4 linked regions of the Homo sapiens genome follow. The protein of the gene in region 1 purifies or fractionates together with the protein of each later gene. This does not show direct contact. Each region holds a gene or a part of one and is shown in the gene's direction. Other genes may lie near its edges.

Region 1 (7,923 bases):
AGGAGGCCAAGGAGAGCAGATTCCTGAGCTCAGGAGTTCAAGACCAGCCTGGGCAACACAGCAAAACCCCTTCTCTACAAAAAATACAAAAATTAGCTGGGTGTGGTGGCATGCACCTGTGATCCTAGCTACTCGGGAGGCTGAGGTGGAGGGTATTGCTTGAGCCCAGGAAGTTGAGGCTGCAGTGAGCCATGACTGTGCCACTGTACTTCAGCCTAGGTGACAGAGCAAGACCCTGTCTCCCCTGACCCCCTGAAAAAGAGAAGAGTTAAAGTTGACTTTGTTCTTTATTTTAATTTTATTGGCCTGAGCAGTGGGGTAATTGGCAATGCCATTTCTGAGATGGTGAAGGCAGAGGAAAGAGCAGTTTGGGGTAAATCAAGGATCTGCATTTGGACATGTTAAGTTTGAGATTCCAGTCAGGCTTCCAAGTGGTGAGGCCACATAGGCAGTTCAGTGTAAGAATTCAGGACCAAGGCTGGGCACGGTGGCTCACTTCTGTAATCCCAGCACTTTGGTGGCTGAGGCAGGTAGATCATTTGAGGTCAGGAGTTTGAGACAAGCTTGGCCAACATGGTGAAACCCCATGTCTACTAAAAATACAAAAATTAGCCTGGTGTGGTGGCGCACGCCTATAGTCCCAGGTTTTCAGGAGGCTTAGGTAGGAGAATCCCTTGAACCCAGGAGGTGCAGGTTGCAGTGAGCTGAGATTGTGCCACTGCACTCCAGCCTGGGTGATAGAGTGAGACTCTGTCTCAAAAAAAAAAAAAAAAAAAAAAAAAAAAACTGAAGGAATTATTCCTCAGGATTTGGGTCTAATTTGCCCTGAGCACCAACTCCTGAGTTCAACTACCATGGCTAGACACACCTTAACATTTTCTAGAATCCACCAGCTTTAGTGGAGTCTGTCTAATCATGAGTATTGGAATAGGATCTGGGGGCAGTGAGGGGGTGGCAGCCACGTGTGGCAGAGAAAAGCACACAAGGAAAGAGCACCCAGGACTGTCATATGGAAGAAAGACAGGACTGCAACTCACCCTTCACAAAATGAGGACCAGACACAGCTGATGGTATGAGTTGATGCAGGTGTGTGGAGCCTCAACATCCTGCTCCCCTCCTACTACACATGGTTAAGGCCTGTTGCTCTGTCTCCAGGTTCACACTCTCTGCACTACCTCTTCATGGGTGCCTCAGAGCAGGACCTTGGTCTTTCCTTGTTTGAAGCTTTGGGCTACGTGGATGACCAGCTGTTCGTGTTCTATGATCATGAGAGTCGCCGTGTGGAGCCCCGAACTCCATGGGTTTCCAGTAGAATTTCAAGCCAGATGTGGCTGCAGCTGAGTCAGAGTCTGAAAGGGTGGGATCACATGTTCACTGTTGACTTCTGGACTATTATGGAAAATCACAACCACAGCAAGGGTATGTGGAGAGGGGGCCTCACCTTCCTGAGGTTGTCAGAGCTTTTCATCTTTTCATGCATCTTGAAGGAAACAGCTGGAAGTCTGAGGTCTTGTGGGAGCAGGGAAGAGGGAAGGAATTTGCTTCCTGAGATCATTTGGTCCTTGGGGATGGTGGAAATAGGGACCTATTCCTTTGGTTGCAGTTAACAAGGCTGGGGATTTTTCCAGAGTCCCACACCCTGCAGGTCATCCTGGGCTGTGAAATGCAAGAAGACAACAGTACCGAGGGCTACTGGAAGTACGGGTATGATGGGCAGGACCACCTTGAATTCTGCCCTGACACACTGGATTGGAGAGCAGCAGAACCCAGGGCCTGGCCCACCAAGCTGGAGTGGGAAAGGCACAAGATTCGGGCCAGGCAGAACAGGGCCTACCTGGAGAGGGACTGCCCTGCACAGCTGCAGCAGTTGCTGGAGCTGGGGAGAGGTGTTTTGGACCAACAAGGTATGGTGGAAACACACTTCTGCCCCTATACTCTAGTGGCAGAGTGGAGGAGGTTGCAGGGCACGGAATCCCTGGTTGGAGTTTCAGAGGTGGCTGAGGCTGTGTGCCTCTCCAAATTCTGGGAAGGGACTTTCTCAATCCTAGAGTCTCTACCTTATAATTGAGATGTATGAGACAGCCACAAGTCATGGGTTTAATTTCTTTTCTCCATGCATATGGCTCAAAGGGAAGTGTCTATGGCCCTTGCTTTTTATTTAACCAATAATCTTTTGTATATTTATACCTGTTAAAAATTCAGAAATGTCAAGGCCGGGCACGGTGGCTCACCCCTGTAATCCCAGCACTTTGGGAGGCCGAGGCGGGTGGTCACAAGGTCAGGAGTTTGAGACCAGCCTGACCAACATGGTGAAACCCGTCTCTAAAAAAATACAAAAATTAGCTGGTCACAGTCATGCGCACCTGTAGTCCCAGCTAATTGGAAGGCTGAGGCAGGAGCATCGCTTGAACCTGGGAAGCGGAAGTTGCACTGAGCCAAGATCGCGCCACTGCACTCCAGCCTAGGCAGCAGAGTGAGACTCCATCTTAAAAAAAAAAAAAAAAAAAAAAAGAGAATTCAGAGATCTCAGCTATCATATGAATACCAGGACAAAATATCAAGTGAGGCCACTTATCAGAGTAGAAGAATCCTTTAGGTTAAAAGTTTCTTTCATAGAACATAGCAATAATCACTGAAGCTACCTATCTTACAAGTCCGCTTCTTATAACAATGCCTCCTAGGTTGACCCAGGTGAAACTGACCATCTGTATTCAATCATTTTCAATGCACATAAAGGGCAATTTTATCTATCAGAACAAAGAACATGGGTAACAGATATGTATATTTACATGTGAGGAGAACAAGCTGATCTGACTGCTCTCCAAGTGACACTGTGTTAGAGTCCAATCTTAGGACACAAAATGGTGTCTCTCCTGTAGCTTGTTTTTTTCTGAAAAGGGTATTTCCTTCCTCCAACCTATAGAAGGAAGTGAAAGTTCCAGTCTTCCTGGCAAGGGTAAACAGATCCCCTCTCCTCATCCTTCCTCTTTCCTGTCAAGTGCCTCCTTTGGTGAAGGTGACACATCATGTGACCTCTTCAGTGACCACTCTACGGTGTCGGGCCTTGAACTACTACCCCCAGAACATCACCATGAAGTGGCTGAAGGATAAGCAGCCAATGGATGCCAAGGAGTTCGAACCTAAAGACGTATTGCCCAATGGGGATGGGACCTACCAGGGCTGGATAACCTTGGCTGTACCCCCTGGGGAAGAGCAGAGATATACGTGCCAGGTGGAGCACCCAGGCCTGGATCAGCCCCTCATTGTGATCTGGGGTATGTGACTGATGAGAGCCAGGAGCTGAGAAAATCTATTGGGGGTTGAGAGGAGTGCCTGAGGAGGTAATTATGGCAGTGAGATGAGGATCTGCTCTTTGTTAGGGGGTGGGCTGAGGGTGGCAATCAAAGGCTTTAACTTGCTTTTTCTGTTTTAGAGCCCTCACCGTCTGGCACCCTAGTCATTGGAGTCATCAGTGGAATTGCTGTTTTTGTCGTCATCTTGTTCATTGGAATTTTGTTCATAATATTAAGGAAGAGGCAGGGTTCAAGTGAGTAGGAACAAGGGGGAAGTCTCTTAGTACCTCTGCCCCAGGGCACAGTGGGAAGAGGGGCAGAGGGGATCTGGCATCCATGGGAAGCATTTTTCTCATTTATATTCTTTGGGGACACCAGCAGCTCCCTGGGAGACAGAAAATAATGGTTCTCCCCAGAATGAAAGTCTCTAATTCAACAAACATCTTCAGAGCACCTACTATTTTGCAAGAGCTGTTTAAGGTAGTACAGGGGCTTTGAGGTTGAGAAGTCACTGTGGCTATTCTCAGAACCCAAATCTGGTAGGGAATGAAATTGATAGCAAGTAAATGTAGTTAAAGAAGACCCCATGAGGTCCTAAAGCAGGCAGGAAGCAAATGCTTAGGGTGTCAAAGGAAAGAATGATCACATTCAGCTGGGGATCAAGATAGCCTTCTGGATCTTGAAGGAGAAGCTGGATTCCATTAGGTGAGGTTGAAGATGATGGGAGGTCTACACAGACGGAGCAACCATGCCAAGTAGGAGAGTATAAGGCATACTGGGAGATTAGAAATAATTACTGTACCTTAACCCTGAGTTTGCGTAGCTATCACTCACCAATTATGCATTTCTACCCCCTGAACATCTGTGGTGTAGGGAAAAGAGAATCAGAAAGAAGCCAGCTCATACAGAGTCCAAGGGTCTTTTGGGATATTGGGTTATGATCACTGGGGTGTCATTGAAGGATCCTAAGAAAGGAGGACCACGATCTCCCTTATATGGTGAATGTGTTGTTAAGAAGTTAGATGAGAGGTGAGGAGACCAGTTAGAAAGCCAATAAGCATTTCCAGATGAGAGATAATGGTTCTTGAAATCCAATAGTGCCCAGGTCTAAATTGAGATGGGTGAATGAGGAAAATAAGGAAGAGAGAAGAGGCAAGATGGTGCCTAGGTTTGTGATGCCTCTTTCCTGGGTCTCTTGTCTCCACAGGAGGAGCCATGGGGCACTACGTCTTAGCTGAACGTGAGTGACACGCAGCCTGCAGACTCACTGTGGGAAGGAGACAAAACTAGAGACTCAAAGAGGGAGTGCATTTATGAGCTCTTCATGTTTCAGGAGAGAGTTGAACCTAAACATAGAAATTGCCTGACGAACTCCTTGATTTTAGCCTTCTCTGTTCATTTCCTCAAAAAGATTTCCCCATTTAGGTTTCTGAGTTCCTGCATGCCGGTGATCCCTAGCTGTGACCTCTCCCCTGGAACTGTCTCTCATGAACCTCAAGCTGCATCTAGAGGCTTCCTTCATTTCCTCCGTCACCTCAGAGACATACACCTATGTCATTTCATTTCCTATTTTTGGAAGAGGACTCCTTAAATTTGGGGGACTTACATGATTCATTTTAACATCTGAGAAAAGCTTTGAACCCTGGGACGTGGCTAGTCATAACCTTACCAGATTTTTACACATGTATCTATGCATTTTCTGGACCCGTTCAACTTTTCCTTTGAATCCTCTCTCTGTGTTACCCAGTAACTCATCTGTCACCAAGCCTTGGGGATTCTTCCATCTGATTGTGATGTGAGTTGCACAGCTATGAAGGCTGTACACTGCACGAATGGAAGAGGCACCTGTCCCAGAAAAAGCATCATGGCTATCTGTGGGTAGTATGATGGGTGTTTTTAGCAGGTAGGAGGCAAATATCTTGAAAGGGGTTGTGAAGAGGTGTTTTTTCTAATTGGCATGAAGGTGTCATACAGATTTGCAAAGTTTAATGGTGCCTTCATTTGGGATGCTACTCTAGTATTCCAGACCTGAAGAATCACAATAATTTTCTACCTGGTCTCTCCTTGTTCTGATAATGAAAATTATGATAAGGATGATAAAAGCACTTACTTCGTGTCCGACTCTTCTGAGCACCTACTTACATGCATTACTGCATGCACTTCTTACAATAATTCTATGAGATAGGTACTATTATCCCCATTTCTTTTTTAAATGAAGAAAGTGAAGTAGGCCGGGCACGGTGGCTCACGCCTGTAATCCCAGCACTTTGGGAGGCCAAAGCGGGTGGATCACGAGGTCAGGAGATCGAGACCATCCTGGCTAACATGGTGAAACCCCATCTCTAATAAAAATACAAAAAATTAGCTGGGCGTGGTGGCAGACGCCTGTAGTCCCAGCTACTCGGAAGGCTGAGGCAGGAGAATGGCATGAACCCAGGAGGCAGAGCTTGCAGTGAGCCGAGTTTGCGCCACTGCACTCCAGCCTAGGTGACAGAGTGAGACTCCATCTCAAAAAAATAAAAATAAAAATAAAAAAATGAAAAAAAAAAGAAAGTGAAGTATAGAGTATCTCATAGTTTGTCAGTGATAGAAACAGGTTTCAAACTCAGTCAATCTGACCGTTTGATACATCTCAGACACCACTACATTCAGTAGTTTAGATGCCTAGAATAAATAGAGAAGGAAGGAGATGGCTCTTCTCTTGTCTCATTGTGTTTCTTCTGAGTGAGCTTGAATCACATGAAGGGGAACAGCAGAAAACAACCAACTGATCCTCAGCTGTCATGTTTCCTTTAAAAGTCCCTGAAGGAAGGTCCTGGAATGTGACTCCCTTGCTCCTCTGTTGCTCTCTTTGGCATTCATTTCTTTGGACCCTACGCAAGGACTGTAATTGGTGGGGACAGCTAGTGGCCCTGCTGGGCTTCACACACGGTGTCCTCCCTAGGCCAGTGCCTCTGGAGTCAGAACTCTGGTGGTATTTCCCTCAATGAAGTGGAGTAAGCTCTCTCATTTTGAGATGGTATAATGGAAGCCACCAAGTGGCTTAGAGGATGCCCAGGTCCTTCCATGGAGCCACTGGGGTTCCGGTGCACATTAAAAAAAAAATCTAACCAGGACATTCAGGAATTGCTAGATTCTGGGAAATCAGTTCACCATGTTCAAAAGAGTCTTTTTTTTTTTTTTGAGACTCTATTGCCCAGGCTGGAGTGCAATGGCATGATCTCGGCTCACTGTAACCTCTGCCTCCCAGGTTCAAGCGATTCTCCTGTCTCAGCCTCCCAAGTAGCTGGGATTACAGGCGTGCACCACCATGCCCGGCTAATTTTTGTATTTTTAGTAGAGACAGGGTTTCACCATGTTGGCCAGGCTGGTCTCGAACTCTCCTGACCTCGTGATCCGCCTGCCTCGGCCTCCCAAAGTGCTGAGATTACAGGTGTGAGCCACCCTGCCCAGCCGTCAAAAGAGTCTTAATATATATATCCAGATGGCATGTGTTTACTTTATGTTACTACATGCACTTGGCTGCATAAATGTGGTACAAGCATTCTGTCTTGAAGGGCAGGTGCTTCAGGATACCATATACAGCTCAGAAGTTTCTTCTTTAGGCATTAAATTTTAGCAAAGATATCTCATCTCTTCTTTTAAACCATTTTCTTTTTTTGTGGTTAGAAAAGTTATGTAGAAAAAAGTAAATGTGATTTACGCTCATTGTAGAAAAGCTATAAAATGAATACAATTAAAGCTGTTATTTAATTAGCCAGTGAAAAACTATTAACAACTTGTCTATTACCTGTTAGTATTATTGTTGCATTAAAAATGCATATACTTTAATAAATGTATATTGTATTGTATACTGCATGATTTTATTGAAGTTCTTGTTCATCTTGTGTATATACTTAATCGCTTTGTCATTTTGGAGACATTTATTTTGCTTCTAATTTCTTTACATTTTGTCTTACGGAATATTTTCATTCAACTGTGGTAGCCGAATTAATCGTGTTTCTTCACTCTAGGGACATTGTCGTCTAAGTTGTAAGACATTGGTTATTTTACCAGCAAACCATTCTGAAAGCATATGACAAATTATTTCTCTCTTAATATCTTACTATACTGAAAGCAGACTGCTATAAGGCTTCACTTACTCTTCTACCTCATAAGGAATATGTTACAATTAATTTATTAGGTAAGCATTTGTTTTATATTGGTTTTATTTCACCTGGGCTGAGATTTCAAGAAACACCCCAGTCTTCACAGTAACACATTTCACTAACACATTTACTAAACATCAGCAACTGTGGCCTGTTAATTTTTTTAATAGAAATTTTAAGTCCTCATTTTCTTTCGGTGTTTTTTAAGCTTAATTTTTCTGGCTTTATTCATAAATTCTTAAGGTCAACTACATTTGAAAAATCAAAGACCTGCATTTTAAATTCTTATTCACCTCTGGCAAAACCATTCACAAACCATGGTAGTAAAGAGAAGGGTGACACCTGGTGGCCATAGGTAAATGTACCACGGTGGTCCGGTGACCAGAGATGCAGCGCTGAGGGTTTTCCTGAAGGTAAAGGAATAAAGAATGGGTGGAGGGGCGTGCACTGGAAATCACTTGTAGAGAAAAGCCCCTGAAAAT
Region 2 (7,923 bases), 7.2 Mb from region 1:
TTCCAAAGTGCTGGGATTACAGGCATGAGCCACCACGCCCGGCCTGCTGTGCTCTTTCTTTTCAAGCATTTCTGCTTGATCAGGGATTTAAGAAAATGAAAGCTGTTGTACTGATGTAAAATTAGAAATGAAATCTCTCCAGGGTCCAAGATCATTCATGATTTTGCTAATATACATTTATACTTGTCTTATCAAATATTTTTAAATGTTTATTGACAAATATGCTTATTTATTTATTTATTTGAGACAGGGTCTCCCTCTGTCGCCCAGGCTGGAGTGCAGTGCAGGCTGGAGAGCAGTGGCATGATCTCAGCTCACTGCAACCTCCACCTCCGTGGCTCAAGTGATCCTCGTGCCTCAGTCTCCTGAGTAGCTGAGACCACAGGCATGTGCCACCATGCCCAGCTAATTTTTGTATTTTTTTTGTGGAGATGGGTTTTTGTCAGGTTGCCCAGGCTGGTCTTGGACTCCTGGGCTCAATTGATCTGCCCACCTTGGCCTCCGAAACTGCTGGGATTACACGTGTGAGCTGCCTGGCCCCAAATATACTTTTTTTTTTTTTTTTTTTTTTTTGAGACAGAGTCTCACCCTGTTGCCCAGGCTGGAGTGCAATGGTGTGATCTCTGCTCATTTCAACTTCTGCCTCCTGAGTTCAAGTAATTCTCCTGTCTCAGCCTCCCAAGTAGCTGAGACTACAGGCGCCCACCACCAGGCCCAGCTAATTTTTGTATTTTTAGTGGAGACAGGGTTTGGTCATGTTAGCCAGGCTGGTCTTGAACTCCTGACCTCAGGTGATCCACCCACCTCAGCCTCCCAAATTGCTGGGATTACAGGCGTGAGCCACCACGCCAGGCCTATACTTTCTTAATATACTTTGTGTGTATAGTGTTTAATTCTCACCATTCTTTTAAAATATTATGGAGTCAGGTGAGGTGACTCACGCCTGTACTTCCAGCACTTTGGGAGGTCTAGGTGGGAGGATCATTTGCACTCAGGAGTTCAAGACCAGCCTGGGCAACATAACCAGACCTTGTCTCTACTAAAAATTAAAAAAATGCTGGGCGCAGTGGCTCATGCCTGTAATCCCAGCACTTTGGGAGGCCGAGGTGGGCAGATCACCTGAGGTCGAAAGTTCAAGACCAGCCTGACCAACATGGAGAAACCCCGTCTGTACTAAAAATACAAAATTAGCCAGGCATGGTGGTGCATGCCTGTAATCCCAGCTACTCGGAAGGCTGAGGCAAGAGAATTGCTTGAACCTGGGAGGCGGAGGTTGCAGTGAGCCAAGATCATGCCACTGCACTCCAGCCTGGGCAACAAGCGTGAAACTGTCTCAAAAAAAAAAAAAAAAAAAAAAAGGTTGGGTGTCGTGGCATGTACCTATGGTCCCAGCTACTCGGGAGGCTGTGTTGGGAGGATTGCACCTTTGATGGGTGACAGAGTGAGACCCTGTCTCCAAAAAAAAAAAAAAAAAAAAAAGAGTTAAACTGTAAAACCTTTAGGTCTTGTTTATTATTTTTTTAAATTTTTTCTTTTAAATAGAGATGGGGTCTTGCTATGTTGCCCAGGCTGGTCTCAAACTGCTGGGTTCAAGTGATCCTCCCACCTCAGCCTCCCAAGGTACTGGGATTACAAGTCTGAGCCACCCTGCCCAGCCAGGTTTTGTTTATTAATTCTATGGATTTTTTTTTTTGAGATCAAGTTTTGCTCTTGTTGCCCAGTCTGGAGGGCAATGGCATGATCTCGGCTCACCACAACCTCCGCCTCCCAGGTTCAAGTGATTCTCCTGCCTCAGCTTCCCAAGCAGCTGTGATTACAGGCGTGTGCCACCATGCCCGGATAATTCTGTATTTTTAGTAGAGACGGGGTTTCTCCAGTCTGGTCTCAAACTCCCAACCTCAGGTGATCCACCGGCCTCGGCCTCCCAAAGTGCTGGGATTACAGGCGTGAGCCACTGTGCCCAGCCTGTGGATCTTTTTTTTTTTTTTTAACAATTCAAAAGTATGTTTCTGGATTTTGACAAACTAAGTGAAATTGCATACTGTTTTTACTCTACTGAACAATTCCATGAAGATGAGAACAGTTTAACCTTATAGGCCTCAGAAGCTAGGATTAAAAAGAACATAAAAATAATTACAAGAAGAAAAAGATTACTTCTACCTGAAGGACCTAGACATTTCTGGGAAGAAACAGCAGTGAAAGTGACCTTCATGTACATGGAGTATTTAGATCAGGGGTCTCCAATCTTTTGGCTTCCCTGAGCCACACTGGGAGAAGAATTGTCTTGGGCCATGCATAAAATATACGAACACTAACGATGGCTGATAAGCTAAAAAAAAAAAATGTGAAAAAATCTCATAATGTTTTAAGAAAGTTTATGAATTTGTGTCGGGCTGTATTCCAAGCCGTCCTTGGCTGCATGTGGTCCCTGGGCTGGAGGTTGGACAAGCTTGATAGATGTTTGGGAGAAAATGGGAAAGACAATGTAAACTGAAGGGACCTCATGACCAAAGCAAAGAGATGACCAATGATGACCACTTCTACTAGGCACAAGAAAGGGGTTCTATGTGGCTGGTTTGTAGGGTGCAGGAGAAGCCTGGAAGGGTGGGTTAGGGGCTGAATGTTCAAATACCTTGAAAGCTGGGCTTTGTTCTGTAGGTGAGAGCGAACCATCAGAAGTTCTTTTGGAGGGCGTGTTATTCTAAAAAGCCTGTTTTTATTATGTACATATTTATTTTTTGAGACGGAGTTTCACTCTTGTCACCCATGCTGGAGTGCAATGGGGTGATCTTGGCTCACTGCAACCTCTGCCTCCTGGGTTCAAGCAATTCTCCTGCCTCAGCCTCCCAAGTTGATGGGATCACAGGCACCCACAACCACGCCCCGCTAATTTTTTTTTTTTTTTTTTTTGTATTTTTAGTAGAGATGGGGTTTCACCATGTTGGCCAGGCTGCTCTCGAACTCCTGACCTCAGGTAATCCACTCGCCTCAGCCTCCCAAAGTGCTGGGATTACATGTGTTAGCCACCATGCCCGGAAAAAGCCTGTTATTTTACTTGATTCTTTTAAAAGATAGGCAAAGGTCAGATCTTTGGACTAGTGAGGAAAATACAGGTTAAATGATTTTTCCAAGTTAACCAGCAAGTCCATGATAGTGATGAAGGTAATGAAAATAGTAACAGCTAACATTTATCAAGTATTTTCTATATGCCAGGCCCTGTTCTAAGCACTTTATATGCATAATCTCACTTATTCCTCTCAACAACCATAGGTTGTAGGTTTTAATATTATCCCTGTATTGCATATGGATAAATATAGGACACAAACCAGTTAAATAATTTGCCCAAGGACACACAGTGTGTAAGAAGCAGAGCTAGAGGCCAGGCGTGGTGGCTCATGCCTGTAATCCCAGCACTTTGGGAGACCAAAGCAGGTGGATCACCTGAGGTCGGGAGTTCAAGACCAGCCTGGGCAACATGGTGAAACCCCATCTCTACCAAAAATACAAAAATTAGCTGGGCACGGTTGTGGACGCCTGTAATCCCAGCTACTCAGGAGGCTGAGGCAGGAGACTCACTTGAACCTGGGAGGCAGAGGTTGCAGTGAGCCAAGATCACACCACTATACTCTAGCCTAGGTGACGAGCAAAACTCTATCTCAAAAAAAAAAAAAAAAAAAAAAAAAAGAAGCAGGGCTAGAAATTGAACCCAGGCCATATAGCTTCAGCCTATGCCTTTATCAGCTGACTTCCTAGGTATTTGGGATTTTTATTTTATTTATTTATTTAGTTTTGAGACGGAGTCTCACTCTGTTGCCCAGGCTGGAGTGTAGTGGCATGATTTCAGCTTACGGCAACCTCTACCTCCCAGGTTCAAGTGATTCTTCTGCCTCAGCCTCCCAAGTAGCTAGGACTACAGGTGCCTGCCCCCACACCTGGCTAATTTTTGTATTTTTAGTAGAGACAGGGTTTTGCCATGTTGGCCAGGCTGGTCTTGAACTCCTGACCTCAGGTAATCCACCCGCCTCAGGCTACCAAAGTGTTGGGATTACAGGTGTGAGCCACCACGCCTGGCCGTATTTGGGATTTTTTTTTTTTTTTTTGAAACGGGGTTTCCCTCTTATTGCCCAGGCTGGAGTGCAATGGCACAATCTCGGCTCACCGCAACCTCTGCTTCCCGGGTTCAAGCAATTCTACTGCCTCGGTCTCCCGAGTAGCTGGGATTACAGGCATGTGCCACCACACCAGGCTAATTTTGTATTTTTAGTAGAGACGGGGTTTCACCATGTTGGTCAGGCTGGTTTCAAACTCCCGAACTCAGGTGATCCACCCGCCTCGTCCTCCCAAAGTGCTGGGATTATAGGCATGAACCACTGCGTCTGGCCCATATTTGGGATTTTTAAACAGGTAGGTGATGGGATCAGACTTGTAGTCACTTTGTTTGGCTACAGTGTGAAGAAGGAGTTGAAGGAGAGACTGAGAATAGGGAGACCAGACAGGAGGGCTGTTGTAATTGTCTAAACGTACATTGATGAGAACCTAAATTGGAAACAGATGTGAGATCTGTTAGGTCCTGGTGGGGATAGCACATAGCACATTATTTTTGACAATTTGCTTGTCTGTCATTGGACTATAGGCAATTTGAGAGCAGGGACTGCTTGTCTTGTTCACCATTCTGTCTTCTACCAGGATACCTTGAACATCTTCAGTGCTCAATAGTTGCTGAATGAATAAATGAGTCTGAGTAACTCCAAGGGTTTGCTTTTAGTGTCTGGCGGGCTTGGTGATCATTCATCAAAGACAGGGAAGATGGGCATTGGAGCAGGGTGGGGAATGTTGCAGAGATGCTGTTGACTTGGGGTATGCTAAGTTAGGTGTAACTATAGCAAACACGTGTAGACTTACTGTGTTCCAGACAGTGTTGTAAGCACCCTTCATGGGTAGGTGTCTCTGTTATCTAAAATTGGGAACTGAATAGACTTGAGTAGCAAGAGGTATTAATGATTTAACCATCACAACAACCTCATGAAGTAGGTACTATTATTATCATCAACTTTTAATTTTAGAGATTAGGAAGCTGAGCCATGGAAAAAGGAAGTGGCCCAAGGCCATATAAATAAGCTGCAGAGGGGATTTGAACCCGGTCAGCCAGGCTCCAGGCACTTAGCCACTGCACTGTACTGCTTCAGTAGAGCATAGAGGTCTGTGCTCAGGTCTAGGCTAGAGCTGGAACCTTCTAGAGTCAGTAAATATTCTGTACAGCACCACAAGACTGACAGTCATGGCTCAATCATTGTCTTCGCCTGTAATCAAGAAAGGCCTGGTTCCTCAAGGGTGGTGCTTGGAGATAGAGTGGTTCAGGTTGTGTCAGAAGTGGCCTCGGATTCTGCAGTCCCCCGAGCTAGAGTGTGCTATGTGTTCAGAGTAGGCTTCAAAGGCCATACCCCCTCATTGCCCCTACTCACCACCCCTAGACCTCTCTGCTCACCCTCAGCCACACTAGGTGCCACCCAGTCGCAGAGCAAAAGGAGTTTGCAGGGAGGGCTAGGAAATGGTGAGTATCAGAAAAGGTGTCCTCTGAGGGGTGGGTAAACTGCAGTTTAGCCCTCCCCAATAACTGCATTTCTCTATTTTTTTCTCCTTCTTTCTCTCCCTCATGCCCCTCCCAACCCCTCATCTCCCTGTCTTCCTCAGTGGTACTGACTGTCCTCACCCACACCCCTGCCCCTCGAGTGAGACTGGGACAAGATGCTCTGCTGGACTTGAGCTTTGCCTACATGCCCCCCACCTCCGAGGCCGCCTCATCTCTGGCTCCGGGTCCCCCTCCCTTTGGGCTAGAGTGGCGACGCCAGCACCTGGGTAAGGGACATCTGCTCCTGGCTGCAACTCCTGGGCTGAATGGCCAGATGCCAGCAGCCCAAGAAGGGGCCGTGGCATTTGCTGCTTGGGATGATGATGAGCCATGGGGCCCATGGACCGGAAATGGGACCTTCTGGCTGCCTACAGTTCAACCCTTTCAGGAGGGCACCTATCTGGCCACCATACACCTGCCATACCTGCAAGGACAGGTCACCCTGGAGCTTGCTGTGTACAGTGAGTTGGGGGACAGAGGTCTCCAGGGGTAGAGGGTGGGCACTGGATTGTGGGGACCGTAATAGGGGGAGGGATGATGGATAAGAGGGTGCCTGGGCAAGTAAGTAGAGATAGAAAGAGGTTCCTGGGAGTTAGAGGGGTAATGGGAGGCTAGAAGTTTCCTGGAAATTTGAGGGGCTTTGACATGGGTATTTCTGTGACGCACCAATGGAGAGACAGTGGGTTCCCTATTTCAGGAGAAGAAACCTAACCTTCTTTAGTTCTGAGGAAGCCAGCAGGCAAACTGAGGGTCTCTTAGGGAGGACAGTATGGACTGATTTCCCTATGCTCATTTCGTCCTCTTTCCCCAGAACCCCCCAAAGTGTCCCTGATGCCAGCAACCCTTGCACGGGCCGCCCCAGGGGAGGCACCCCCGGAATTGCTCTGCCTTGTGTCCCACTTCTACCCTTCTGGGGGCCTGGAGGTGGAGTGGGAACTCCGGGGTGGCCCAGGGGGCCGCTCTCAGAAGGCCGAGGGGCAGAGGTGGCTCTCGGCCCTGCGCCACCATTCCGATGGCTCTGTCAGCCTCTCTGGGCACTTGCAGCCGCCCCCAGTCACCACTGAGCAGCATGGGGCACGCTATGCCTGTCGAATTCACCATCCCAGCCTGCCTGCCTCGGGGCGCAGCGCTGAGGTCACCCTGGAGGTAGCAGGTAAGAGCTGGGAGCTCTGCGGAATCTGAGCCAGCACCCAGGAAGACAGGAGCTCACTCTCACCCCTTCTGCCTGCCAGGTCTTTCAGGGCCCTCCCTTGAGGACAGCGTAGGCCTTTTCCTGTCTGCCTTTCTTCTGCTTGGGCTCTTCAAGGCACTGGGCTGGGCTGGTAAGTGTCAGCCCTACCCTGACCATGACCTGAGGTTGGTGGACTTTCCCCACCTACTCCCAAGAGCCTGACACCCATCCCTCTGCCCTCCACCTCTACCACTCCAGCATCCCATCCCTTCTCAATCTTTCCCCACAGCTGTCTACCTGTCCACCTGCAAGGATTCAAAGAAGGTACAGTGCTCCACCTCTCTGTATCTTTCCCTTGTCACTTTATCTCCTCATCCTATCTCAAAACCCATGGAGGGAGGCTGCTGGTGTGGTAGGCAGAACCTAGGCTTGGAATTCACACTGATCTGGGTTAAAACCTGGCACTATATCCTAACTGTAGGACTCTTTGAGCATGCTACTTAATCTATATGTTTCCTTGGGTGTAGGGATTTTAAAAAGTTACTTAGGCAGTGCTGTCCAATAGAAAGATAATGCAAGCCACATATGTAAATTTAAATACTCTAGTACTCACATTAAAAAAATAAGCAGAAACAGGTAAAATTAACTTAATAATATACCTTATTTAATCTAATAATTCTGGTCCCTTATCTGAAATGCTTGGGTCAGAAGTGTTTTTGGATGTTGGATTTTTTCAGACTTTGGAATATTTGCATATATTTAATATCTTTGGGATCAGACCCAAATCTAAACACAGAAATCATTTATGTTTCCTATACACCTTATACACATGGCCTGAAGATTTTTTTCCTTCTCTTTTTTTTTGAGACAGAGTCTCTGTCGCCCAGGCTGGGGTGCAATGGTGCGATCTCGGCTCACTGCAACCTCCACCTCCCAGGTTCAAGCGATTCTCCTGCCTTAGCCTCCCGAGTAGTTGGGATTACAGGCACCCACCACCACGCCTGGCTAATTTTTGTATTTTTAGTAGAGACGGGGTTTCACCATGTTGGTCAGGCTGGTCTCGAACTCCCGACCTCAGGTGATCCGCCCGCTGCCTTGGCCTCCCAAAGCGTTGGGATTACAG
Region 3 (7,923 bases), on another chromosome or scaffold:
CTGTGAAAGTACATCTTAGGGCCCAGACGATCCAGCTATCTCGAGCCTTGGACCACCTGCCATGTGGTGGACATTAGGCCCCTGCCAGAGCATGTGCTGATTAGCCGGGCATCTGCACAGACCTGTCAGGAAGTGAAGGACTAGAGACGTCCTTCTGAGTCCTGAGGGCTGCCCAGAGGGAGGCCCAGTTGCTCTGATCTGGCCGCAGCGTCTCCTCCACGGCAGCCTTCTTGGACTGGGGCGCAGGGAGACGCCAGCAGGCGATTTGGGGATGTGTGTGTTTAGTGTTTGGCAGCCTTGGCATTGAAAAACTTTGGATTAGTGTTTTTTTTTTTGTTTTAGTAGTTTTGATATATTTATATATATACATAGCTGGGCGTGTTGGCTCACGCCTGTAATCCCAGCACTTTTGGAGGCTGAGGAGGGTGGATCACGAGGTCAGGAGTTCAAGACCAGCCTGGCCAAGATGATAAAACCCCATCTCTACTAAAAATACAGAAATTAGCTGTGCGCGATGTCAGGCGCCTGTAGTCCCAGCTACTAGGGAGTCTGAGGCAAGAGAATCGCTTGAACCCGGGAGTGGAGCTTGCAGTGAGCCAAGATCGCGCCACTGCACTCCAGCCTGGGCAACAGAGTGAGACTCTGTCTCAAACAAACAAAAATATATATCTATATCTATATCTAGATAGATATAGATATAGATCTATATAGATTATATATATAATAAACATTGAAGTTTGACATACAAAAATGTGTACACACTTCTTTAGATGTGCTGTTGATGAATTTTCATATGACGAGCAAACCCGTGTGACTAGCTCCCAAATTAAGGAGCGTACTCTGTGGCCGTGGCGGCCTACCCGGGGCACACTGCTGACCCCTAGTGTGCCACGGTGGTGCTGCCTGGTTTGAACTGAGGTGGGTGGGTCCTGCTGTGCAGGTGTCTAGTGCGAGTGTCTGGCTTGCGTTCTGGTGTCCGCTGCACCGCCATGCGTGTCTGTGTGTAGTTTACCCCTGTGAGGCATTTACGGTGTCTCCTATTGGGAGCTCTTGTGATGCCCTGAGGAGTTGGACAGGCGTTGGCAGGGGGTGGTTTCTGCTGGGTGCGTGCCTGTGTGGAGTGGCCGGGCCCCAGGGTGCGTGTGCTCCGCTCTGGAGCTGCCATGTGGGTGCAGTGGTGCACATGCCGGCCCGCATCCCCGGTAGCATTGGGTATCGTGTCTTTTCCGCTGGAGCCATTCTGATGAGTGCTTGGTGATATCTCATGAGTTTTTGGTATTAATAGACTTACTTTTTTTTTTTTTTTTTGAGATGGAGTCTTACTCTGTCACCCAGGCTGGGGTGCAATGGTTCAATCTCAGCTCACTGCAACCTCCACCTCCCAGATTCAAGCAAGTCTCCTGCCTCAGCCTCCTAAGTAACTGGGATTACAGGCGCCCACCACCAAGCCTGGCTAATTTTTTGTGTGTGTTTTCAGTAGAGGTGGGGGTCTCACCATGTTGGCCAGGCTGGTCTCGAACTCCTGACCTCAAATGATCCACCTGCCTCGGCCTCCCAAAGTGCTGGGATGACAGTTGTGAGCCAGTGTGCCCAGCCGGACTTATGTGTTTGAGCAGTTTTAAGTCTACAGAACAACAGACTGGAAAGTGCAGCGCCCCCGCCCCCCTCACCGTCCAGCTAGGTTCACGTGACTGACGTCTCGCACTAGTGTGGCGGTCCTTGTGTTTTAAGTGTCACCTCGATGGAGGTAGTGGACATGCAGGAAGATTCACTCTCTTTTTATTTTCTCGAGGCGGAGTCTTGCTCGGTCGCCAGGCTGGAGTGCAGTGGCGCAATCTCGGCTCAACTGCAACCTCTGACTCCCTGGTTCAAGTGATTCTCCTGCCTCAGCCTCCCAAGTAGCTGGGATTACAGGCACACACCACCATGCTCAGCTAATTTTTGTATTTTTAGTAGAGATGGGATTTCACCATGTTGGCCAGGAGGGTCTCGATCTCCTGACCTCGTGATCTGCCCACCTCGGCCTCCCAAAGTGCTGGGATTACAGGTGTGAGCCACCGTGCCCGGCTGATTGACTCTTTTTAGGGTGCAGGTCATGGGCTTGCTGTGTAACCACCACAGTCAAACAGAACACACAGCTTCATCCCCCAGAGGGTCCCCATGTGCCCCTTTGTCATCAGCCAAATCTCCACACCCCCAGCCCCTGGCAACACTGAGCTGTTCCCTGGCCTAAAAGTTTGCCTTTTCTGAGTTTCCTGTAAACAGAATGACACTGTTTGTAGCATTCAGAGTCCAGCTTCCTCTGCTCAGCATGGTGCGTTTGAGTCCCATCCGTGTCATGGTGGGTGTCAGTAGTCATCCCTTTTTCCTGCTGACTAATATTCCCTTATTCGAATGGACCACAGTTTGTATCCATTCGCTTGTTGAAGGACATTTGGGTTGTTTTTCCATTTTTGGGTTGTGGATAAACCTGCTGTAAACATTGGCATACAGGTTTTTCATGAACACGTTTTCATTCCTCTTGGTAAGTGAATACCTAGGGGTGCAGTTAATCCCCAGGTCACACAGTAAGTGTCTATTTAACTTATGAGAACGGGGAAAATGGCATTTTTAATCTCTTCCAGAATGTGTTCATTACTTGTAGCTGTGGACTTAAGTGGCTAAAGATGGTGCATGTAGGGTGTGTGCAGAGAACAAGGGGGTATTAGTTGGCAGCACCCCGCTGTCCATGAAGACTTGAGGTGGGGACTGGGAAGGAGATGGCACCCCTGTGCTCTGCGCATACAGCTTCATCCCTGGACAAGGCGCGCGGCCACCACAGCAAGGAAATGGCCCTTTCAGTGCTAGGAAGTGTCGCGTTCGGCAGGAGACTGGGATGGAGCGGGGCCTGGGGGTGAAGAGGGTCCTCATGAGCCGCGTGTGTGGGGTGAGGGCCTCTGGGGAGCACCTGCTGCTGTGAACATGTGTTCCTGTCTCCACCCTGCAGTGCGGCATCGTCCTGGGGGCGCTGCTCTTGGTCTTCTGCTCATGGATGACGCACCAGTCGTGCATGTTCTTGGTGAAGTCGGCCAGCCTGAGCAAGCGGAGGACCTACGCCGGCCTGGGTGAGGCGCCCTCTCCACAAGGTGGCTCTGGACCTGGGGCGGGGGCCTTATTCCATTTATTTATTTATTTATTTACTCTACTTGATTCTTCAAGAATTCCTTGGATAGCAGGGTTTTTTTTATTTTAAAATGTAATGCTGCAAAAAAATGAGCCGGGTGTGGTTGCACGTGCCTGTCGTCCCAGCTACTATTTGGGAGGCTGAGGTGGGAGGATCACCTGAGCCTAGGAGTCTGAGGTGGCAGTGAGCTGTGATCACGCCATTGTATTCCAGCCTGGGTGACAGAGCGAGACCCTGTCTCAAAAGAATTAAAAATCAAATTAAAAAAAAATGCAGTTAAAAAAAAAACCTGCCGGGCGTGGTGGCTCGTGCCTGTAATCCCAGCACTTTGGCAGGCCGAGGCAGGCGGATTATTTGAGGTCAGGAGTTCGAGACGAGCCTGGACAACATGGTGAAACCCCATCTCTACCAGAAATACAAAAAATTAGCCAGACATGGTGGCAGGCATCTGTAATCCTAGCTACTCAGGAGGCTGAGGCCAGAGAATCTCTTGAACCCGATAGGTGGAGGCTGCAGTGAGCTGAGATCACGCCACTGCACTCGAGCCTTGGTGCCAGAGTGAGACTCTGTCTGGAAAAAAAAAGAAAAACCTGTTATAATCACATGCTTCAAAATTGGAGTGACACAGAAGGGTATGAGGCGCCAGGTCTCCCTGTCACCATGCCCTCCTGCCCGCTCCCATGCAGGTCCACACAAGCTTCCTCTTCTAAACTCAGACCAAGACAGCCGTCCTCACCGTGCTGGTGCAGACCTGCTCTCTCTGTGTCTCTCCTGGACACCAGATGCCTTCCTGCGGAGCTGCCTGCAGAGAGCCTTGCTGTTCTCCCCAACTCGGAATTCCATGGAGGAAGCTCCTCAGGCCTGGGCTGTTGCTGGAGTTCAGTGGCTCCTCTCCCAGTGGCTGTGTCCTTCCCCTGATGCTGTTGGTTGCAGTTTTGTTTCCCTTAGTTCTTTCTTGCTTTAATGCTGTTTCAGCCAGGAGAGAAGGCTGCGCTTTCTGCTTCATTTCAGTGTGGAATATTTTCTACGTTGTTTGTCTTCGAGGGCGCCATCCCTCACCTTCCCGTCTGCCCACAGGCTGTGTGGCCCGCGCTGTCTCCCTGCCCGCCACAGGCTCGGCACCTCTCGGCTCCACGTTCCATTCTGGGGGCATCCAGCCTGGGTGTTGAAATTCCAGCATCCGTGTTCTCAGGAGTTGGCCCTGTGGGTTTTGGTGAAAACTCTGGCCTTGTGATGAAGGCTCTGGACCTTCCAGCCAGTGTGCGGCTGGGATGTTAGGTCCTCCCTGCAGAAGGCCATCCTGCCCCCCGGGCTCACAGCTCCCGCGGCAGAGTGAGGAGGTGGCGGGAGAGGAAATGGTGTTTAGGGGTCCAGGGGGCCAAACAAAATAAAAACACCTGCACGGTCCACACGTGGGTCCTGGCCTCCCAGCCTCCACTTCCTCCCAGTCCCCTTCATGTTGCCACAGAGAGTCCTGCGTTCGTTTCGGCCCTCAGAACCGGAGGGGATGTATTCCTTCTCCTCCCTTCCTGATGAGAATGGTGCTGTCAGAGTCTTTTCTTGTTGTTATTTGAGGAAGTGAAGTTCACTGTTAAGTTTGATCCACAGTGAGATGGCCTAATGCAACTTGGGCTGAAAGATGCCTACCGGATGCCAGGAGGCACCGTGCCTGGGCGGGCCCCTTCCTGGGTCTGCAGAGCTGTGGCCTGCAGGGCGACCCTTTTCTCCTCACTGAGGTCTCTGTATAGGGTTTCTGTAGCAGAGGCCCCAACTCCAGTCCTTGGCTGTGTCCTGGAAGAAGACCGGTGACCCAGGGCTGGGGAGGCCCCCATTTCTGATAGCCAGCTGTCTATTCATTCAAAGTCCCTGAAAAGTCAAACCAGTTTGGCTACATGTGAAGGACTGGAAGAAAATTGCCGGGTGGGTGCTCTTCTGTGCTGCCTGGAACTCCTGCCTGAGCTTCCAACCTTTACCTGCATGGGGTGACCGCAGTCCACTTCTGCCTGCCAGAAACAAAAAAGATTCCAAAACACCAAGTGTGTCTCAGGTTATGCCTTTGACACCAAACACGGTGGTTCCACTGCGTGAGCTCCGGACAGAGGCCCCTGGGCCCAGCTGCTCCGCGTCAGCTGCAGTGTGCCCTGGCTCGTCTTAGAAGTGGGGAGACCCGCGCTGGGAGAGGCGTCCCTGGGGAGGGTAAGATGAGACTCTCCTGGAGCTGAGGCGAGGCCCTTGTGCAGAGTGGACAGCAGCTCCACACTGCAGTCTTCAGGAGGCGCCGGGCTGGGTCCCGTCCTCGCACACAGACTGACTTTCCCTGGGACGGCTGGGTGGTTTCCTCCGAATGGCATCTGCCCCCACCCAGGCATAGGTTTGCGGTGTAATGGTTCCTCGGGTTGGTTAGCCTGGGGAGGTGGCCGCTGATCGCTTTACCCTCCCCGCTGTCCTCCAGTGCCATGTGCCAGCCTGGAGAGGTGTCGTTTTTTGTTGGTGTTTGTATATTTCCCTGTCCTATTTGCTGTTGCTGGTTGCAGGTGGTTTTTGTCGTTTTCGTCACCTTCTCACTTGCTGCTTCCTTGCCCTGCGTGTCTTGCTTGGACATGGACTTTTCTAAATCCCCTCTTCAGAAGACACACAGATACATCAGTCATTCAGCCTCCTTCAGCTGTCGCGGCTTCTCATGAAGCTGTTCTGAGCCCCAGACCCTGCCCTGTTGAGAGTTGTGCCTGAACCCTGGCATGCGTGGTCTGGGCTAGAAACCGCCTCCCCCAGCAGCAGGGACTGTTTGGCCCCCACGCGGCCTCTGAGTTCTCGGTTGTGAGCAGCGGTGTCAGGAGTGCTGCCCGCGTCCTTTCGTTGGGTGGTCCAGGCTTCTGTGGCTCCTGTGCTGGCTCTGGGGGAGATCTGACTGCACCTGGGGTAGGGTACACCCTGCATGGAGGCCGCGCCCTCAGAGCTCGCCGCTCACAGATACCTCCAGCCTGGCAGGGGCTGGGCCCGCACTGGGAGTCCACACTCGGGGGAGGGCTGGGTCCCCGGGACCTTGCTGGGCGCTTCAGCCTCTTCCTCCCTTTCTCTGTGCCAGTCCACGCAGGATGTGAAGGAGTGGGGTCAGTCCAACTGGGGCTGGTGTTTGAACCTGGGGAGGAGAAGTTGCCGAGGGATTGACACTGGGAATGGCGGGTGAGGGTTTGGCCCAGGTGGGGAAAAGAAGGCGCGTGGGGCCGTGTCTCAGCGTGGTGGGCTCTCAGGACGTTGTCCTGGGAACCAGAAGAGAGTGCTGCCCTGATTTCCTAGACAGCCTCCCATTTTCCCTTGCCAGTGGCAGGCATATTCCGGAACCTTCTTGGGCAAGGTGCGCTCGTGTTTGGAATATGCTGTAGAGACTCAGCTTCCTTTTGGAGAATGAAAAGGCACATTATGGCCAGGAGCAACTTCATGTTTGGAGCGCCGTGTTTTGTTGCTTCCGGGCTGTGCCGTCACTGAGGGGTGTGGAGGGCGTTCCTTGGTGACAGCAGGGCCCTGGGCTGTGGGCTGCTGAGGGGGCTCCTGGAGTTCTTAGTGTTTGAAACTCTCCACAGCCTCAGGTCAGCTTCTGGGGCCTGGCTCGGGTTTCCGTGTTGTGGGATGAACTCAAGGGGTGCCAGGCTTCTTCAGCGAGCCCATAGGCAGGTCCAGGAAAGGCCAGGGTGAGCCCTGGAGGTGGGGTCTTTGCTGCTCCCGGGCTCTGGCGTTTGGCAACGCTGTGCTTCTTCCTAAGTAGTTTAAAGTAATAAGGAGTGTTTTTTGGACCCATTCATAGTTACTAGCCTGTGTGTTTCCTGCTTTCCAAAGCTCATCAGAGGCCTGTAGCCCGTGGGAGGAAGGAAACCAGGGGCAGGAAGCTGGGGCTGCCGACGGGGCTGGGCCATCCTGCCACATGCACCGCATCTCTGGGTGCGCCTTGGAGCCGGGACTTCCCTTTGCCCTTCTCCGGCTGGGCCGTGGGGGAAGCGCGGGGGTCACCAGATGACCGCTCGGGGCCTGGGAGGGACCCTGCTGAGTCAGCGCCGTTTCTCATCTGCTGCAGAGAATCCCGCGGTCAGGGCGGAGAGAATGGCGGCTCCTTCCGCATTCGGCCGCCCCGTCGGGAACGCATGCTCCTCATCGGCAAGGCTCCTCATTAGCTGTCCACGTGGACACCACAAGCCCAGGGCTCTCGTCCCCTCCCTTCCTGAAGCACCATGCTCGAAAGGAGTCTCCATTTGTTTCTATAAATCCCAACCAAAGGGTGAAAATGAAAGCCCTCCGTCAGAGTCCCTCTGGTGCAGGCTGTGGCGCTCGGGTACCTGGGACCGGCACTGAACCCTCTGGGGACCTGCAAGCTCTGGCCAGCAGCACGGGGTTCGGCCGTGCTGGGCTGTGGGATGCTGTTTCCAGCCGGCCCCCAGTGGTCACCGGGTGGGAGGACTGCATCGCAGGGACTTGTCTCTTTGTCTGTTAAAAAATCTGATTGAGTGAAAGAAGAACCTGCCTCCTGTCCTTCCCTTGCTCTGTCTTTGTTTCTTGTAGTTTCATTTGCAGACAGTAGATCCAAAAATAACCTGGCAGCCAGAATTTGAAATACCCCTCATGCCCCGGAGAATCTGGGCCCGTGGGTTTCTGTGAAATCGCCCTTGACAGCTTGGCTCAGTACCTTTGTTCTGGACGAGCTTCTCACGCTGTTGGATTGAGTGTTCCTTTTTCTTTTGCACTAGCATTCCACGCCTACGGGAAGGCAG
Region 4 (7,923 bases), on another chromosome or scaffold:
GTTAGGAGTTTGAGACCAGCCTGGCCAACATGGTGAAACCCCGTCTCTAGTGAAAATACAAAAGTTAGCGGGTATGATGGAGCATGCCTATAATCACAGCTACTCAGGAGGCTGAGGCAGGAGAATGCCTTAAACCCGGCAGGTGGAGTTGCAGTGAGCCGAGATGGCACCACTGCACTCCAGCCTGGGCAAAAAGAGTAAGACTCTATCTCCAAAAAAAAAAAAAAAAAAAAACAACTAATTGATGATGAGTGTCTGTCCACTATGGGGCTGCTGGTACTGGTGCCTTACTGAGGCAGCTTTGCAGAAGTGAGTCCTCACTGTCTCAGGAGCTGATGCTTACATCTGCATATTGTCAATCATTTTTGTCACCAAATATAGTTCCTTATATTTCTGTATACTTTTATGTACTTTTATTATTATCATGTTAATATTACTTGTGTACATTCCCAGCTCCATAGCTAGAGATGATTTTCTATTTATCGGTGTGATTATCAAGAACCCATTGGCATGGTGCTAGTATGCTGTTTGCTTACCTGACCTTAAGCTCTCTGTTTCGTCATCTCTACAATGGAGATCATAATAATAGTATCTTTTTAGAGGCCTGTTGTGAGGATTAAATGAGTTAAGATATGTAAATCGAGTATTATAATCGTTGGTATCATCATTATTATTGATACTTCTTATAGTAGCCCTATAAAGTTAGAATGGTGGTATCTCCACGTTACCTATGATGAAACTTGGACTCTGAAAGGTTAAGTGACTTGCTAGCTAAGTAAGGGGTAGAGCTGCGTTTCAAACCCAAATCTGTGTGGCTGCTGGGTCACACTCTTCTATACCACACTGCCTCCATGCCCTGGTCAAAGTGTTCTTCAAACACAATTTTACTAAAGGACAGAATGGAAATTTGATGTGTGGCAAAGTACATTTAAAGCTTGAATTCTGCATTGGTAATTGTCACACAGGGAAATGAACTGTGTGGAATAGCCAGTCACCTACATCGATGCCTTCCTGAGTCCTGAATGGTGTAAATTGACAATAGTTTTCGTTTTCCTACAGGTTCACTTCTTAAAAGAGGGATGTGGAGACGACAATGTATGTAACAGCAACCTTAAACTAGAATATAAATTTTGCACCCGAGAAGGAAATCAAGACAAATTTTCTTATTTACCAATGTAAGAATCGTTGTGTAGCACTAGCAAAAATGATTCTGGCTTCATGGTGGCTTTGTGTTAAGAAAGTTTACTGGAAACGTATTGAGGACTTTGCCTTTTTGTTCTTGTTTTCTTATTTTTAATAGTCAAAAAGGTGTACCAGAACTAGTTCTAAAAGATCAGAAGGATATTGCTTTAGAAATAACAGTGACAAACAGCCCTTCCAACCCAAGGAATCCCACAAAAGATGGCGATGACGCCCATGAGGCTAAACTGATTGCAACGTTTCCAGACACTTTAACCTATTCTGCATATAGAGAACTGAGGGCTTTCCCTGTAAGTATTGTTAGAGACCAGCTGAGAGGGGAAAAAAATCAACACTGTGTGGCAAATGAGTGGATTGTGACCTAGCGTGTGTTTCTTTTACAGGAGAAACAGTTGAGTTGTGTTGCCAACCAGAATGGCTCGCAAGCTGACTGTGAGCTCGGAAATCCTTTTAAAAGAAATTCAAATGTAGGTGATGCCTTCATATACTGTATTTTACTGTTTTAAATACCATTGCAGTGTCTGTATGCATGGCCTGTGTTAACAGCTATTTATGTTTTTTTAGGTCACTTTTTATTTGGTTTTAAGTACAACTGAAGTCACCTTTGACACCCCAGATCTGGATATTAATCTGAAGTTAGAAACGTAAGAGTTACATCAACCTCTCCATTCAGAATTATTTCATGAAAATATGGGCAGTCAATGAATTGGCCCTGATCTACCTCATAAAAGAAGTCTAATTGTAGTGAGAAAACTGACTGGTAAAATACAACCCTATTGTTTCCTTTTCATTTTCAGAACAAGCAATCAAGATAATTTGGCTCCAATTACAGCTAAAGCAAAAGTGGTTATTGAACTGCTTTTATCGGTCTCGGGGTAAGTGTTTGTGTTTAGCATAACAAATCAATGTTTGAAAGAACCATTTACAATCCTCATTAAAACTGGTGTTTTTTAATTTGACAGAGTTGCTAAACCTTCCCAGGTGTATTTTGGAGGTACAGTTGTTGGCGAGCAAGCTATGAAATCTGAAGATGAAGTGGGAAGTTTAATAGAGTATGAATTCAGGGTAAGTTGGAGCAGTTGGTCTTTTCATTATACCAAAAGCTGACATATACTAGGTATGGTCTTGAGTATGTCATTTTAATAAATCAGCAATATTAATAAGCATTGTAAGTAAATCATGAGTTAAAAATTAGTTTGCCAGCTTTTAAAGAACATACTGGCTTATAGTAAAAATTTTATCCTCCAGGATGGAGAACAATTGTCACTGTTCAGAATCCAGTTCAGTTTAGAATGCGTTATGATTTATTCCTTCCTCCTTTATAAGGTCATCTTTCTCACTGCTTGTGGTTGAAAGAATATTAATGTATGCCTACCTTTCACAAGCCCAGTTTTTGTGGTGAATGTAGATTTGGTATATGCCTGTAGGAAAGGCAGTGACTGGCTCTGAACCATTTCAAAGTAGGCAATCACAGTGACTCTCTGTCCTGTTGAATAAACATAAACATAGGGTACAGAGTCTGTTCGTAACTCACACATGGGTTTAGGTCTGTGTGGCTGAAATCACATTCCTGAAGGCATAGTGACCACTGTGGTGAAAGCCTCAAATGGCAAGCATGGGCCCACCTGACTCCGGCAGAATGAAGAGGCTGAATTCTCCTCTGTGTGTCTCTTAGCATTATAGACACAGCTGGGGCAGGTGGTGGTGGTGGTTATGATCTCTATGCAGGTGCAGCTGGAAAAGAAGTCTTTGGGTTCTGGAACAGTCTCGACACCAAGAGGGCTCTTACCTCCTGTGTTTGGCTTCTGCCGCAGGACGTCACTCTGTTCCCAGCTTGGACTCTCAGATTCATGGCTGTCCTAATAATGGTTTTGCAGAATCTCCTCTGGGACAGAGGCAGCTTCATTTTTGCAGTGGATGGGGTTTTCCAGAAGCAGGTTGTTGGTACACTGCCTTGGCCCAGGACTTGTCATTGGCCAAGCAGGGTGGTTACAGGGCAGTTCACAAATTCACACATGATTTTCCCTGGGCGTATGTTGAGAACATGGTATATCTACACTGCTGATTCTGTTGCATACAGCAGTTGTTCCTAGAACGAGTTAGCTATCAGTTGTCCTTTGACCTTTTTGTTTTTATTTACAAAAATCTTTAGGCACAAGTCTTTATTTTGAATGCCCTATCTATAGTCCATTTTTGGAGCCTGTGCTTTTATTATAGGATTACGTTAGATATTTTAGCTTCTTTCTCTTGGTAAAAGGAGCTGCTACTTAAATTTACATTGAGAAGATTAGACTGAGATAATATGTATTATTTTCTAACAGGTAATAAACTTAGGTAAACCTCTTACAAACCTCGGCACAGCAACCTTGAACATTCAGTGGCCAAAAGAAATTAGCAATGGGAAATGGTTGCTTTATTTGGTGAAAGTAGAATCCAAAGGATTGGAAAAGGTAACTTGTGAGCCACAAAAGGAGATAAACTCCCTGAACCTAACGGTATGTCGGTAGATTTATCTAATGTCTCCATAAATGCAAATTAGAGAAACTAACTTGTTAGGGGAAAATCATTACTGTTCTTAGGAAAGTGGCATATTCTGGCAGGTTGACTTTCTCTTTGGTTGTCACAATTTCTCTTTTCTAGTTGGGTAACTGAGGGAGGCTGAGGCATTTTTGCTGGTTAATGACCATTATAGTACATAAGGCAGAGTCATTCAGTGCTTGCTGAGGCAAATGGTATTTTCTGATGTTTCATCATGACCCAGTATGTTACATAATAAGGAGAACTGGGGGATGCTCCTGGGGTAATAGTAGCTGCTGTTATCCAGGGGCCAGCCAGTGTTCACTCCAAGTAGAACCAAACTCATTGGAAAAGATAATGGCATCTCAGCAAGTAACCTTGAAAGCTTTTTATGCTTATTTTTAAAATAGTAATTATTTATTGTGTACTCATTGTGTCTCAGGAACTATGCTAAGCATTTTGTTTTCATTTTCTCATTTCATTCTCTGGATGGTCCTATGAGGGCGTTTCATTATCCTCACCATTTCACAGATGAGGACATTAAGATTCAGAGAGCAAGTAACTCTCTCAGTCACTCAGGCGTTAAGAGACAGATTCCACATACAAGCCCTGCTCTGCCTGATGTCAAAGCCTGTACTGTTAACCCCTCTCTCTATACTGCTCCATGCTTAGATAACTGGCCTATCATTTGTGTTCCAGTTTGATGAAGGTTTGCATGTTTATTTCTTTTATTTTAAATTCTAAGGTGACTGGGTATGATCAGTGATCAGAGTTGGTGGCTTATAGCATGATCTTCTACTCATCAATGTTAAAAATCAAGATAATCGGTTATTACTAATCTTTGCTATAAGGAAAATGCAATTTTAAAAGTTCTTGTATGGCTTAGTTTTCATTGCTCTGCTCTGAATGAGCTATATAATGGGTCTTTTTGCTTCTTTCTCTGTTCTTCAGTGTCACTTATTCCTTCAAGATGTGCTGACTACCATGTTTTAGGAACAGAGCTGGAGGCTAGGGATACAGGAATAAGATTTGATCTCTGATCTCAGTATGCCCACAGTTTGGTGGGGATACAGAGGAACAAAGAAAGCATATTTCTCTTTCTCTGAGTTTTAAGGTCAGAGTGGGAATGAATTACTTAGTCCTATGAGTAAATCAATAAACTTGAATTTAGAGTGATAATACTTGCTGGTTTTACACTTACTTCTGTGCCTTTGGCAGGAGAGAGGCAAATATTGTTGATTATGTGAATCTGGCACTGTTTGGGAGGATATGCTCAAGAGGCTTGTATGGTAATGACAAAGAATTACATAAATTGGAACTATTTTGGATATAATTTTTTTCAGGAGTCTCACAACTCAAGAAAGAAACGGGAAATTACTGAAAAACAGATAGATGATAACAGAAAATTTTCTTTATTTGCTGAAAGAAAATACCAGACTCTTGTAAGTATTTTTCAAGAGCTGTGAATATTTGAGAGGATGAGGGGAAGGATTTCTTCAGAACAATGTCTTTTGATGACCATTCTTCTTTTTCTCTCTAGAACTGTAGCGTGAACGTGAACTGTGTGAACATCAGATGCCCGCTGCGGGGGCTGGACAGCAAGGCGTCTCTTATTTTGCGCTCGAGGTTATGGAACAGCACATTTCTAGAGGTATGACCTTGGCTTGAGGCTGTCCCATGGAAGTAATTTGCCTTTGCCTAGGACACTTTTCACTTCCCTAATGCATTCACTGTCTCCAAACAGGAATATTCCAAACTGAACTACTTGGACATTCTCATGCGAGCCTTCATTGATGTGACTGCTGCTGCCGAAAATATCAGGCTGCCAAATGCAGGCACTCAGGTGAGAGGTTCCCCAGCTTCATTCAGGTTCAGAACATGTCTCTTTTCCCTGTACCCCACACTCATGTCCTGAAGTCATGTGCTTTGGTGCTCATTTCCCTCATAGCCCCATTACGGAGAAAACTGTCTTAAGGTACTGGCACTGCAAGCTGTATTTTAATAGAATCATTGAAAAAAAGAAGTAAATCTAGGGTCATCCAGTTCAGCAGTGCCCATGGTAGGTTTGAGAACTACTGGCTCAATTCAGAGAATGGGTGCACCTCACAGCCCTCTAGAAACCTGTGTCTTCTACCATCTCTAATGCTGCAGCCATTGGTGTAATGCCCCAGTGATGGCCCATCCCTTGGCCAGCTGTAATTATTAAAAAAGATCTCTTCATAGCTGACTCCTGAACTGAACCTTGTAAGTCCCTGGTTATGCCCCTCAAACAAGTCTAAAATAAGTTCTCTCTCTTGGCCATGTAGCAGCCTCTCAAATAATTGAAGGAAATGGTCATGCCTCCTTGGATGTTTCTTATTCTTCTCAGAGCTTATGCACCCAGCTCTTGAGTTATGCGTCACATTGGGCACAGCTGAACTGGCTCCTGGCCTCTCCCTTCCTGGGCAATTTGATTCCCACGTGGACAGAGCAGCTGAGGTGGGGTCTGCTTGGTCCCACTTACCCTGGGGCCTTTACCTCTCAGCATCTCGGCACCACACTTCTGTCAGACCTGCCTAAAATTTGCTTTTTCAAACCATTGCTGAGCAGCATGTTTGAATTTCTAGCAGCTGCTATTTTTGTGTTAGTGTTCTACTGAAACTTCCAGGTGTTTTCATCAGAATTTGTTGTCAAGCTGTGTTTCCAGTATCCTGTCCTTGAGCTATTTGTAAAAATCTAAATGTATGCCTTTAAGTGTATCCTTACATTTTATGTGATTTGCTTTGGGTCCATTGTTTCAGTTTGCAAAGTAATTCTGAATCTTGCTTCATCATTTGCTTTCTCAACTTTCTATCCCTGAAAGTTTTAAAAACTGAGAAGCATGTTCTCTATGTCTTCATCCAGGTAATGACAAATATGTTGAATAGGACTAGGTGTAGAACCTTGTAGTGAACCAATAGTGAGGGGTTCCCTGTGGGAGTCTAGAACCCACAGGGACTTGTATAAAGATCTCGAGGCAGAATGACTGCATGTCATGGTGGGAATAATGAATGGGAATGTTTTGCAAAAGAGACTGGAGAAAGAAATACTGTGAATTACTGTTCTTAAGTTAATCTGCCAGTCTACTTATGGAAATGTTCTGGCTTCAGTCATTTAGCTAGCTGAAAATTCAGGGAGCCTCCCTAATCATTCTGTTTTCTGAAATATAGCAGTCCTTACGATTTATTATCCAAGCAAGAATACATTTTTGTTTTTATTTAGTTTTTTGAGATGGAGTCTTGCTCTGTTACCCAGGCTGGAGTGCAGTGGCGCAAACACAGCTCACTGCAGCCTTGAATGCCTGGGCTCAAGCAATCCTCCTGTCTCACCTCCTGAGTAGCTGGGACCACAGGCATGCCACCACGCCCAGCTAATTTTTCAGTTTTTTTTGTATAGCCAGAGTCTCACCATGTTGCCCAGGCTGGTCTTTAACTCCTGGACTCAAGCAATCCGCCTGCCTCAGCCTCCCAAAATGCTGGGATTATAGGTGTGAGCCACTGCACCCAGCCCCAGGATACATTTGCCTGAGACAAATGCTGTACTGGGCAAGCTGCTGCGATAAGTGGTATCAACCAGCACTGTCCCGGTCTCTCCAGGACATATCAACAGGCATCATAAGGGACTTTCAAATAAACCACACCTTCCCTAAGGATCCTTTCTCTGCATCTATAAAGGCAGCAGGTATAGCTTTCTATAACTGTAAATCAGCAACTCTGAAAATCACTGAGATTTCAGAGCTAGACAGAGAACACTTTAGAGGGAAGGGACTAACATTAATGAAGCCTTAATAAAATGTCTGCAGCTTACTAGATACTTTATACTCTATCATTCAAACTTCAGAAGAATGCCAAGGGTAAACATTGTACTCATTTTACAAACAAGGAAGCAGACTCAGAGAGGGGATATAATTTGAGACCCTCAATTGAAACCTGTAATTGTCTGACTTCAGGGCTTCTGTTCTTTGACTCTGTGGCACTTGGTCCCCTTAAAGTCCCCAAATCTCAAATTGAGATAAGAAAACTGAATCCAAGGAAAGGTATCTCCCCGTCAGGGTCACCCGACCAGCAAGTAGAGCTGAGACCAGACCTTGGGTCTGATGTCTCCTCTTCAAGTGCTGTCTTCTTCTGGAAGATGATGGAACTCTGGGGGCCCTGGTGTCCAGTCTGATGACTGGGTCACAAATGAAAG

The links.
Region 2: the proteins of HFE (region 1) and TAPBP purify together in Homo sapiens (co-immunoprecipitation; 2 studies listed by BioGRID and IntAct, with this or other methods). This does not show direct contact.
Region 3: the proteins of HFE (region 1) and SLC38A10 purify together in Homo sapiens (co-immunoprecipitation; 2 studies listed by BioGRID and IntAct, with this or other methods). This does not show direct contact.
Region 4: the proteins of HFE (region 1) and ITGA6 purify together in Homo sapiens (co-immunoprecipitation; 2 studies listed by BioGRID and IntAct, with this or other methods). This does not show direct contact.

Annotation. Positions count from the first base shown.
Region 1 is NC_000006.12:26,089,686-26,097,608, forward strand, and holds part of HFE (hereditary hemochromatosis protein isoform 1 precursor), read left to right. Parts: intron 1-1,037; exon of another isoform or gene 1,038-1,155; coding exon 1,156-1,419; intron 1,420-1,628; coding exon 1,629-1,904; intron 1,905-2,923; coding exon of another isoform or gene 2,924-2,956; intron 2,957-2,999; coding exon 3,000-3,275; exon of another isoform or gene 3,276-3,341; intron 3,342-3,433; coding exon 3,434-3,547; intron 3,548-4,500; coding exon 4,501-4,541; 3' UTR 4,542-4,718; coding exon of another isoform or gene 4,719-4,726; 3' UTR 4,727-7,923. UniProt on the Homo sapiens protein: Binds to transferrin receptor (TFR) and reduces its affinity for iron-loaded transferrin.
Region 2 is NC_000006.12:33,303,156-33,311,078, reverse strand, and holds part of TAPBP (tapasin isoform 1 precursor), read left to right. Parts: intron 1-5,691; coding exon 5,692-6,090; intron 6,091-6,440; coding exon 6,441-6,782; intron 6,783-6,861; coding exon 6,862-6,951; intron 6,952-7,089; coding exon 7,090-7,124; coding exon of another isoform or gene 7,125-7,304; exon of another isoform or gene 7,305-7,473; intron 7,474-7,923. UniProt on the Homo sapiens protein: Involved in the association of MHC class I with transporter associated with antigen processing (TAP) and in the assembly of MHC class I with peptide (peptide loading).
Region 3 is NC_000017.11:81,284,872-81,292,794, reverse strand, and holds part of SLC38A10 (solute carrier family 38 member 10), read left to right. Parts: intron 1-2,986; coding exon 2,987-3,104; coding exon of another isoform or gene 3,105-3,125; intron 3,126-5,445; exon of another isoform or gene 5,446-5,450; intron 5,451-7,899; coding exon 7,900-7,923. UniProt on the Homo sapiens protein: Facilitates bidirectional transport of amino acids. May act as a glutamate sensor that regulates glutamate-glutamine cycle and mTOR signaling in the brain. The transport mechanism remains to be elucidated.
Region 4 is NC_000002.12:172,485,964-172,493,886, forward strand, and holds part of ITGA6 (integrin alpha-6 isoform b preproprotein), read left to right. Parts: intron 1-1,059; coding exon 1,060-1,175; intron 1,176-1,300; coding exon 1,301-1,490; intron 1,491-1,583; coding exon 1,584-1,667; intron 1,668-1,764; coding exon 1,765-1,844; intron 1,845-1,997; coding exon 1,998-2,075; intron 2,076-2,162; coding exon 2,163-2,265; intron 2,266-2,575; exon of another isoform or gene 2,576-2,686; intron 2,687-3,521; coding exon 3,522-3,695; intron 3,696-5,060; coding exon 5,061-5,159; exon of another isoform or gene 5,160-5,257; coding exon 5,258-5,368; exon of another isoform or gene 5,369-5,461; coding exon 5,462-5,560; exon of another isoform or gene 5,561-7,923. UniProt on the Homo sapiens protein: Integrin alpha-6/beta-1 (ITGA6:ITGB1) is a receptor for laminin on platelets. Integrin alpha-6/beta-1 (ITGA6:ITGB1) is present in oocytes and is involved in sperm-egg fusion.